Linked DNA regions of Homo sapiens: region 2 is linked to region 1. Evidence: fine-mapped expression QTL. A gene starts in region 1. The other region holds a variant in brackets. All regions are shown on one strand. Distances are from middle to middle. Region 1 holds the start of SMCO4 (single-pass membrane protein with coiled-coil domains 4). Region 2 overlaps SMCO4 (single-pass membrane protein with coiled-coil domains 4).

Region 1 (5,380 bases):
ATAGCTGAGAATTCCTTTTCCACTGTTAACAAAATGGTACATGGATTGAAAGATCATCAGTAACTTATGCACGACAGCTGTACCAGAGTCGTGCCATCTCTTGGCTTTGTTTTCTCTCCTGTAAAATGATGCTCACTCCTACCTCACAATGCCTGCTCAATGGCAGGGGCTCAAATGGTGACGATTATGATTTTTATCAATACTTCTCAATTAAAGTAAAATTTATACACACACAAACACTAGATATTTTAAAGACTCAACCTAATTAATCAAGCCTTTACTTGTTGGAGAAGATATCATTTTTAACACTACCTCATCTGGTCTGAAAAGGAAAGTAGTTTAAAAAATATTTGGAAAAAATTGTTTAATAATAAAATACCACTACCTCAAACTCAGAGAGAACCACTAACTGCAGCTTCCAAAAAGCTGACAAAAAAGGATTACTGAAAATGATGTGGTCAAACCCAATATGGATTTTGAAAGCTACTAATGGACAAGAACAGGAACATTCAGTTATGACAAAATACACACACAAAAAAAATTCCTCTTCTTCCAGCACCATGGCTTGATCATTAATGTGTGGTGTGACCCTGGCCAAGTCACTTCAATGCTGTGATGGCCCTCAGCACCCAAAATGTCAAGGCCAGCTTATGACCAGGAAGCTCTAGTGAGAAGTTGCCCAGGGGGTCTAGGGGACAGGAGCGGGGTGGAGGGGACACAGATGATTGCCTGGAGCAATTTTTAATGTGCTGCCTCTAACTCACTGCTTGCCTTTTACTACACTCATCTGAAAAGAAATGAGAAGTCTGGGCATGCCAGAGGCAAGAGGAACCAGCTCACCACTTCTCAAGCCAGAATGGAAAAGATGGCAGAAGCATAGTTGTACAAGGACCCCAGCATCAGTCAGACAGAAGGAAACCTATAATATTATGCAATGAGAGACCCTGAGGATGTTCTTCAGACAAACCCCAGCAGGACCAATCCAACTCCAAGCTTGAGCGTCCACTCCAAGCTTGAAGATTAAACAATAAGAAAAAATTCGGGTCCACAGGTGAAATACACACTTTCTAAGCACAATGAGCAACTTTATAGTAGATAGCTGGACAACCAAGTACACTAACTGCAAGCATAAGAACAGTATTCATGTTGTAAATCGAGTACCAACTACTATTAGTTTTTTGTTGTTTTGCTTTTTGCAATATTTCTTCTCATATTTTATTTTAAATCTAAGCTAATTTCTTTATAAGAACAGGCTAAGGCTTATTTTCTGTGGCTGATCCAGCCTTACAAGAAAAAAGATTTCACTGTGTCCCTCAGAAACCTACTCCTGTCTACATCACACTGTCGAGCTCTCTCTTTATACCCCATGTGACAGATAAGAAAACAGAAGTCCAGAGAGAGCAAGTGACTCATCCAAGGTCAAACTTCTTGCTAACACATCTAGGACGAGAATAAGGGCTCAAGAAGCCCACTATGGGTCTCTTGCCGTATCACTGCTGCAAATGACCAGGCATACTGGTGTCTTGAATACAAAGTTTATTTGTAAAGGGGAAAAAAAAAAAGCCAACATGAGTCATCTGCATTGTCAACGGGCTCCACACAGGTTGTTCTAATAAAGCATCCAGCACCTCCAGAACCACTTGTTTCTGAAAGCACCAACCTACGCAGACACTAGCAGGCCATGTCTTCCACCCTTGCCACCCTCGAGGCTGTGAGCAGATGCGCTGTTGGGCTCTGGGGATCTAGAGGTGTCACTTAAAGAGCAAGGGAGCCTGGAGCTTGGCAGTACTGACTGGATGAGTGGATGGGTGGGTGTATGAGGACATGGGAGTGTTTTCTGACAGCTCCCGGAGATAGTTATGATATCATGCAGCCTAATCCCACTCATCTTGGAACACCCCAAACATCTCATCCGCTCAGCTGTCCCTCCTCAACTTCCTCAGGGCAAAAGCACTGCAGTCTGAGGTGAATCTGGCCGCTGGGGAGGGGCGGTAGTCGGCCCCAGCAGCAGAGGAAGCAACGCTCAGCTCCCTCCTCCACCCACCCCGTACAGGAACTCCCCACTGGGTCTTCAGATGCCAGAGGCGTACCCAGCTCGGAGCCTGCCCCGGGTCTCAGGGTCGGTCCCGAAAGAACGGGGGAGGAGGAAGGCTCTATCCCGCCCCCGCCTCACCTCTACTCCCCGACCCCCAGGCGCCGACCCTTCTCACCCGCAAGGTCCGCCGCCGGACTCTTGTCCACTCCCAGAGACCCTGAGCGCACCCCTTTCTCGGCGTCCTCAAAGGACCCGCGTTTCCCACCTTCCCATACGGGGCCCTCCCGGCCGCCCCGGCCCAAGCCCTTTGCACTGCGTCCCCCGGCCCCTGAGTCCGCCCCGCACCCGCACTTCCCGCCCGGCCCCGCGGGCTCGCGGTCCGCCCCAACTTTTCCCAGCCCCCGCCCCGCAGCAACCGGGATGCAGCGTCTCGAGCCGCGACGGGCAGGCGAGCTCGAGTCCCTCGGGCCCCCAACCCCGCCCGCACGAGTTGCGCTCGGGACCCGCCGGGCGCCCAGGCCTGGGTCAGCAGCACTGCGCGGAGGCGGAGCCGGCGTGGCGGGAACCGTACTGTCCCGGCGCCGCACCCCCGCCCGGTGCCCGGTGCCCCGTGCCCCGCGCCCGCCCGCCGGCTCGCCCGCCCCGCCGCCGCCGCCGCCGCGCCGCTCCCAGCCCACCTGCCCGCGGGCGCCGCCGCCGCCGCCGCCACCACTGCCGGGAATACGTGGCAGTGGCCGCCGCCGCTTGCGCTCCCCGCCTCGCCTCTCCTCTCGGCGCCCGCGCGGGCGACTCTGGCGCGCCAGACCGCAGCGCCAGGCGCCCTCTGCCGCCGGGAAGCCGAATCCTCCCGTCCTAACCCTAACTCGCTGGCTGCCCCCGCCCGGGCCTCGGCTCCCGCCCCCTCTTCCCCGTTCCCGGCTCAGACTGTCGCTTCCGAGCGACCTGGGTTCTCGCCCGGCCTGCTGCTGCCGCTGCCTCCAGGAAGTTCGCCCTGACCACCTCTGCAGGCTCAGCGCGCTTCCTCCGGCTCCCGCGCAGCGGGTGCTTAAGTCACCCCCTTGTTGATATATTTCCTGCTTCTTTGAACGCCTCGCCCGTGAGATAGCAGAATCGGAAAGGGGATAGTTGGAGGCAAACGCCATGTCTGTTGTGTTCACCATTCTCTCCTCCAGGGCAAGGTTAGCGCCCTGTCTGGAATACTGAAGTGCGCAATAAATACTTGTGAAGAGAGCAAACGAGTAGATGAATGAGTTGAGACTTTTACCGCTGTCTACCCAAGTAGGCTTTGAAACCTCAAGCGGACAGAGATCCTGACCTGGATTTGTTTTTTGTAACTTACACGTGCATATGTGTGCGCAGCTCAGCATAAATAAATGAGATTCACAATTCCCCACCTCGGACCAGCGCCAAATCCGCAAGAGGCCCACGGCTAAATGTTATTCAGGGCTTTTGGTCAAACACGTTTAGGTTTGAGATCTACCTCTTAAAAGCTGGGCAATCGCGGGAAAGCTCATCTCCCTGGCCCACAGTGAACACGTCTATAAATTAAGAATAATAAAACCTACTTCACAGAGTTGTGAGAATTAATTGAGATGGTGCACTATAAAGTTCTTTACGCAGCCCCGATGTGTGCGGTGGTATGTAAATGGTAGTTATTGTTGTATTACTACTGATGCAGTAGGTGATTTTAAAAACTATCTTCGAAATGTAAAATATTGACTACCTTTTCACCTTAAAACCTTTATATGTGTGGTATTGTCACCTGCTCAGCAAGGCCAGCCCGGGGAGCAAGGCCACTCCTGTAACCTCTTCCCCTCCACCGGTAAAAATATAACAAGTCTTGGGGTTTTTTTGTTCTGTTTTGAAGAATTGTGGAACCCACTCTTCTGCAGGTTTTCCACCTGGATTTCTGTGGCCAATCTCTTAATTAACAAGTTTTTATTTTAGGGATGTCAAAGACAGGGAGCCCTTTGAAAGCACCTGCAGTCTACTGGCTCTTCCTGTTTTCTTCCTGACCCTCTCTCAAACAACTTAAGGCTTTTTTTTTCATTTTTACAGGAAGTGTCCTTCCTGCTGCGTACAAAAGGCAGCAATGCAGTAGAGTGGGATCAGAGGGGATTGGGCTGCATACACCTTGGGCTTTCTGCACCTCAGTCCCCTCAACGGTAAACTGTGGAGAATAAGACCTTGTCACATTGGGAGATCATTCATGATCCGGTCTGTGAAGGAAATAAGGAAATACCTGAAACACAAAGATATTTAATAAAAGGCAACTATTGATCAGTTTATTTAGCATGTATTTAAGGAGCATCTTTTTAGTGTTCTATGCGCTGAAAGAATGAGGGGAACACGCGTGTGTGAGGTAAGTTTCCTACCTTCAAAGGAGTTTGAGCTGTAGCTCCACACTAGGGCAGAGGGATTGGGAGCATATGGGATGCAGCTAAATATGAAATTAGCAAGCCTCAAGGTTTAAATTGGGGCAGTGGTACTGCCGTGTGAATTGCTTTAATTCATTATCATTGTAAATGCCATTTTCCTCTAAATATTATGTACACAACTTCCCAAGGCCACTGCTAAAAATTAATGAATAATTTTATGAGGCAAGCAGAGCCACTGATGTAGGACTCAGTCCCTTAATAAGGTGACTCCACATGCTCCCTTATAGTAGTAATAACATAGATATTGTGTCTGTGAAAGTGCCATCCTTGGCTGGGCGTGGTGGCTTACCCCTGTAATCCCTGCACTTTGGGAGGCCGAGGTGGGTGGATCACCTGAGGTCAGGAGTTCGGGATCAACCTGGCCAACACGATGAACCCCGTCTCTACTGAAAATACAAAAACTAGCTGGGCGTGGTGGCAGGCACCTATAATCCCAGCTACTTGGGAGGCCTGAGGCAGGAGAATCACCTGAACCCAGAAGGCGGAGGTTGTAGTGAGCTGAGATCATGCCACTGCACTCCAGCCTGGGCAACAAGAGTGAAACTCTGTCTCAAAAAAAAAAAAAAAAAAAAAGAGAGAGAGAGAGAAAAGAAAAAGAAAGTGTCATCCTTTATAGGTTAGAGTTGTGTATCTTGCAATGCAAGTCTCAGAGGAAAAGTTTACACATTTTACACTAATGGCTTCTAATGAATCACCCCTACTGAGTTGTCCTTCTGTAGCTCCCTCCCACGTTGACCCTGGAGTTGGCCTTGTGACTTCCTTTAGCTACTGGGACATGAACAAATATGACACAAGCAGGGGCTTTCGATGTGCACTTGTGCCTTGCTCCTTGCTTTCTTGAAATGCTATCCTGAGACTGCCATGAAGAAACCTGGTCCAACTCCTTGAAGAGGAAAGACCCTGAGAA
Region 2 (5,380 bases), 46 kb before region 1:
GCATGATCTGGCTCCTGCCTACCTTTTGCACTCAACTCCCACCCCACCGTGCCCTCCACCACAGCAGCGACCCTCCTCAGTGTTCTCTGGCATGCCACACCCTTGCTGACCTCCCAGGCCTTTATCCATGCAGCTGTCTGAAATGCCCTTTGCACCCCTATTCTCCCAAGCATTCCTTCTGCTTGGCAAAAAAGTAACAAGCAGTTGGTACTTGGCATCTCTTTCAAGACCCATCTCAAGGGTCACATGACTTTCCATCCCCCAGGGTGAGTGAGGGGCCATCTCTGTGTTCCCAGGACTCTGGGTAATAAACTCTATCACAACGCTCATCACACTATTAAAATCACCTTTGCTGGTATTCCCATTACAAACTTTGCTGTAACTCATCAGGCCACAGTGTACCAAACATCCAGCTGGAGTTTCAATATTACCATTAATTACCTTGGGGAAGGCCTGAGAATGGAGAGTATCATGCCTAAGATGAAATTCAGGTACGTGCTTTTCAGATGTGTGCACGGCAGCACACGCAGGACCTCCGACACACACAGGAGTAAAGCTCAAGACTAAGGAAAACAAATCGGCTTCAAGATAGGAAAAACATATTTAAAAAGGAAAGCTGTATGCTAATATTTAGCTTTCTTTTTCCCTTGTATAATAGAATGCCAGTCTTTTCTTGTACCAACCTAGAACCAAGTTTCATTCAAGATTTCATGAGCTAAAATGCTGTTGCACATTTTTATGTCAAAATATGTGGGTGGGGGATGGGGAGGTTGCTTGGGGAGTAGCAAGGAGTATTGCAATTTCAGCTGATTACTTATTGGCTATTAACTTATTAAGGTTACAAATGAAATAGTGGTCCACCTCTGTGTTCTAGGAGTTGTTATTCTGGTGTTTGGAGGAACAAATCACTCCTTGTTCCATTTCCCAGAACACAATATTCATTCTAAGTACACCTTTGAGAGCCTGAGTTATTTTATTGCGTTTGGAAAATTGAAGTCACTGCAATCTTCCTAGGAAGTCAAGAGTGAAGGGGAGAATGTCTCACAAGCTACAACAACATGGTGCCAACAATGCTGTGCCTCTGTAGCCAGGCCTGGGGCCCAGACAGTGCAGTCCACTCCATGGGCTGCACTGGGCTTATGTGTTTCATCAAGTGCAGGATGAGGTCACCAACAGGTTTCAAGCAAGGGAATTACATGATTTGACAAGAATTTTTAAAGATTGCTCTGGGTCCAAATTGATGAGAGGAATAGAAGAAAAGGGGAAGCAGGCAGGGCAGTCAGTTAAGAGGCTTTGGCAGTCACCTGGCAAAGGACGATGTTGGCTTGGACTTGGGGGGCGGATACAGGAAGGCCATGGATGAATTCAAGATGTACTTTAGGAGAGGCATCATTAGGATTTGGTGATTTGGGGGAAGAAAAAGATGAGTATTAACAAATGAAGTACCAGTTTCTGGCCTGACAAAGTGAGTTAACAACTACGTACCTTAATAAGATGGGGGAAGGGAGGAGGCCTAGAAAGGGACTATGGTAGAAGTAGACCAAGAGTTAAAATCTGGACACAGTAAGCTTGAGGTGCCCATGAGATACCAAGTTTGCTAACTGCCATAAAGGGTGTAAGAATGCTATAGAACACAGAGGAGTCCTGGGGCCAGCCTCAGAGGTGACCCCTGTCTATCCTCTCATGGTGTCGGAGGTCCTGCCACTGTGCCAATTCAAGGTGGGCACAACCACTGAGGAGCACCTGGAACCCCACTCAGCCAGGACACATGAGGGTAGCCTCTATGAGGATCCTCACTAATGCAGATCCAGCTTTGGGGTTAAGAAAACAATAACCTTAACAGTAAAATGGTGCTTGCATCATGCCACAACTAAAAGTAAAATGTGAAGCCTGTTTCCTTTGATTACAAGCATCACGATAGGCTTGCAGATTTCTCGATACTGATGCTTCAGATTCCCAGTAAAAGGGTGTTGGTATCTGGTCCTGGGCCCCAACGCTTACACTATGGGGAGTAACCTGTTTGGGGGATTCCAGGTTAGAATTTCCCACAGGAAAATGTTAATCTAAGAGAGTATCAGAGGAAGGTCTCTCAACATAAAAAGACCAGAGATGGTGGCCTGTTTTAGGAAAACAACAATTCACTGAAATCACATCCTGCTTTTAATAGCCCCCCTTCTAGAATAGAAGCTGGTTTTTTATTATGATGGTTCTATTTTCCCATTTCCCCATCAAAGGACAAATCAAAATGTCACCTGACAATCCACTTTCATTAAAAGTTGAGCAATTTTTTAAAAATCACAGTTAACTAAACAATTCCACATGGCAATAAAGCACTGTGCTCTGCTGCCTTGACTGATAGAAACCATTTGCAATGATTTAAAAGAGAAGGAAGCGAAAGAACATCATCAGATACAGCTGAATTAAGCTGATCAAACCTGTTAGTGTCTTCCAGTTTACTCAGAGTAAGACAATGCAGCATTCATGTAAGCTAATTAAATTTCTTGTATTTAAATTAGCCTTAACAAAAACAAAACTTTCAAGACTGACTGGAAGGTCTCAGGAGGAACATATCTGCTTTTTCAAGAAAGCTGCCTGGCTGAGGGTGGAGGGAGCACCAGGGTCAGACTCTCAACAGAAGGTCAAGACTCCCCTCCCTCAAAGGAACACTGAGGGTAGAGACGGTTCTGTGACACTGTTAGTTTGCCATGGCTTCCAAAGGGGGGTACCAAGATCAGATGGTTGGGGGGAACTGAACCCCATTCACATCAGTTCATGATGTTATGCAAGACATTGAACTTCTGAGCTTATTTCCCAACTTTGAAAATGAGAAGTTACCACTTGCCTCTGCCTGCTTCCCAGGACTGGTGGGAGAAGAAAATCTGCCGACGTGTGTCAAAGCACCTTGCAAAAGAGAAAGCACTCTACAAATGTGAGAGACAGTTGCTGGTTACTGTTAGGCAGAAAGGGCTGAGTCAAGTCTTCCAAGATGATGGTGACCAATTAAACTGATTTTCTTTTTTTTGAGAACTGTCAGTTGATTATTTATTTTGTATAAAAGTTACATTGAAAGAAGAGGTTGAAAAGTCAAGTATACTAGATTTGCACACACTTGCGAAGTCTCACAGGATTCAACCACTTGGATAATTTCTTAATTGATAACAGGATATACATATTAAAAGCCTCACACTGAAGCCCAATACACGTCAAACCCAGACAACAA[T/C]GTGCAGATGAATACGCAAAACAATCTCTGGAAATTTGTATCTCTGGGAACACCCACAATCTATGCTTTGTCCCTCTGGCTATGATGCATAAACTCATAAAATTAATAAGAAACTTTTATGGGATCTTTAGCAGTTACAGTAAACAGTTTGAGAAAAGGAACCTGCTGACTTATTCATTTAAAGGACAAAGGTTGGGGGCAGGGAGGTGGGTTAAGACACAAAGTCACTGAGTGAAGCAGTCGAGAGCATGGCACAGATGGAGAAGGTGATCCACCTGTGCAGCAGATAGGAGGGGCTACAACCACAGCGAGACCTAAAGCCCCCCACATGCAACCCCCACTCACACCCGCCACAAGCGGAGAAGGGGGCTGGGGAGCTGTGCTCCAGTGACCACTGGCATCCAGCTCTGCCTGTCACCTCCCTCCCCACTTCTGGATTCCTGCTCTTAACATGGGTCCAAAATCAAATGTGAAAAAAAAGTATCAGATACAAAAGCTTTGCTATTAGCTTCATTTCACCAATAGCCAAAGGACACCTGGCGAAGATCAGGAATTTCGGATGAATGCTCAAAGATCATAATGTATTTAAGAATGATTCCTAGTACAGGCCCAGTAAGGGAGGCGTGGTGGGGGTACAATGTGGGTCCACACAGGAGCAGGCCTCTTGTGGAGAGGCTCCTTCATGAGTCATTCGAGAAACATTTATGGAATACCGACTGTGTCCCAGGCACAACTCAGATGCACCCTTAAGCAGCTTACTGGGGAAAACACAAAAACAGGCAACGAGAATAAAGCGTGGAAGTAAGTACTATGATGGGGGGTGTGTCACAGACCTCTACCCGACTGGCCAAGAGAGGAAGGGTGAGACCATCAGGGGAAGGGCAAACGAGAACACAAACATCACAGGAAGGAGAAAGTGTCGTGGGGGTTCAACAGCAGGAGAAATCACCCGCAGCCTGGAGGAGATCCTCCACAAAGGACAAAGGTGGCATTTGATAAAGATCTTGAGGGATGAAGAGGAACTTGGCCAGGCAGAGAGAAGGGGTAAAATATTACACACAAAACTAGGCATATGAGAGAAATGACTGGGACAGTAACCTCTCCCCAGACAATGAGTTTCCCTTATAAGAGAATGTTTACCTTTTCTTCAACTTCAAGAATCGTTGATTAATTTCAGCAAACTGATTTCCAGTACAGGTGACTTGAGTTATTCCTGTTGAGAAATTAGAAGAAAGGGTATAATAGCTGCTGGGGAGGTATCCCTCCACAGACTCCTTTTTTGGAACCCCCTCAGCCCATGCTGAGAGGGCAGTCACACGGTTCCCCTCTCCCAACTGGCTTAGGGATAGACACTTGTCACCGCCCTGCTCCAGAAGGGCAGACAGACAGATACACTGGCACATGTGTGCATGTGCGTGATGGACAGGACCAAGCAGCCCCTGCATGGAGTTAGAGGGGCCTTCCCACTCCTGTGCCCAGCAGGCAGTCAAGCTTTGCTTCCTGTATTCCTGGGATTTCTACAACAAACTCGCTGCTAACTTAAGCCGCCATGAGACCATGGCTGTTCCCTGCAATCAAAAATCACTGATTTAAAAATGAAGGATACAGGTTTGGGATTAGAAAAGAAACAAACGCGGAAGGTGAAGGAACAGAGGCTTTTAAACCAAAGCCTTGGGAAAAATAAAAGATGAGAAAGTGACCCAGGCATCCGAACTACCGTCCCATAACATCAGAGAGGAAAGGAAGAGAGATGTGTGACAGCCACAGAGGACAGCCAACAAATTAACTCAAAACCTCAGTGGCATTAAATATTAAGTTGGAAGCCCAGATACTGGGGGAAAGGAGCTTTTAGTATGGGTATTACCCATAAAGCAAAATAAATAAGAGTTCCCTTGAAAGTAAAAAGGTGGGAGACTCCAAAAAGTGTCCATAACAAGCAAGACATAATTGAGTAATGGTACAATGCCTATCATTACTAAAATACGTAAAGATAAATCTTGGTTTACCGTGCTTTTTGTTTTGTTTCAAACAAACATTTCATTTCAAGGTATGGTGGGTCAGCAATCAGTGCTGAGTTCAGCTGGGCTTTTTCTTCTGGTCTTGCCTGGCTTATGTATGTGGCTATAGGCATCTGGTTGCTCCACTGGGCCAGATGGTCTC

Evidence for each region.
Region 2: its variant is fine-mapped to the expression of SMCO4 in whole blood (INTERVAL, PIP above 0.99).

The regions. Positions count from the first base shown.
Region 1 is chr11:93,540,564-93,545,943 of GRCh38, forward strand. SMCO4 (single-pass membrane protein with coiled-coil domains 4) reads right to left here and starts at 2,828. Exons shown (of 3, transcript NM_020179.3): 1 at 2,713-2,828. RefSeq lists silencers at 2,319-2,558, 2,689-2,738, 2,899-3,028.
Region 2 is chr11:93,494,916-93,500,295 of GRCh38, forward strand. SMCO4 (single-pass membrane protein with coiled-coil domains 4) reads right to left here. Exons shown (of 3, transcript NM_020179.3): 2 at 4,361-4,433. Among named protein-coding and RNA genes, the nearest start is that of SMCO4, 46 kb to the right of the region's middle. The variant T/C (reference allele first, on the strand shown) is at 3,221.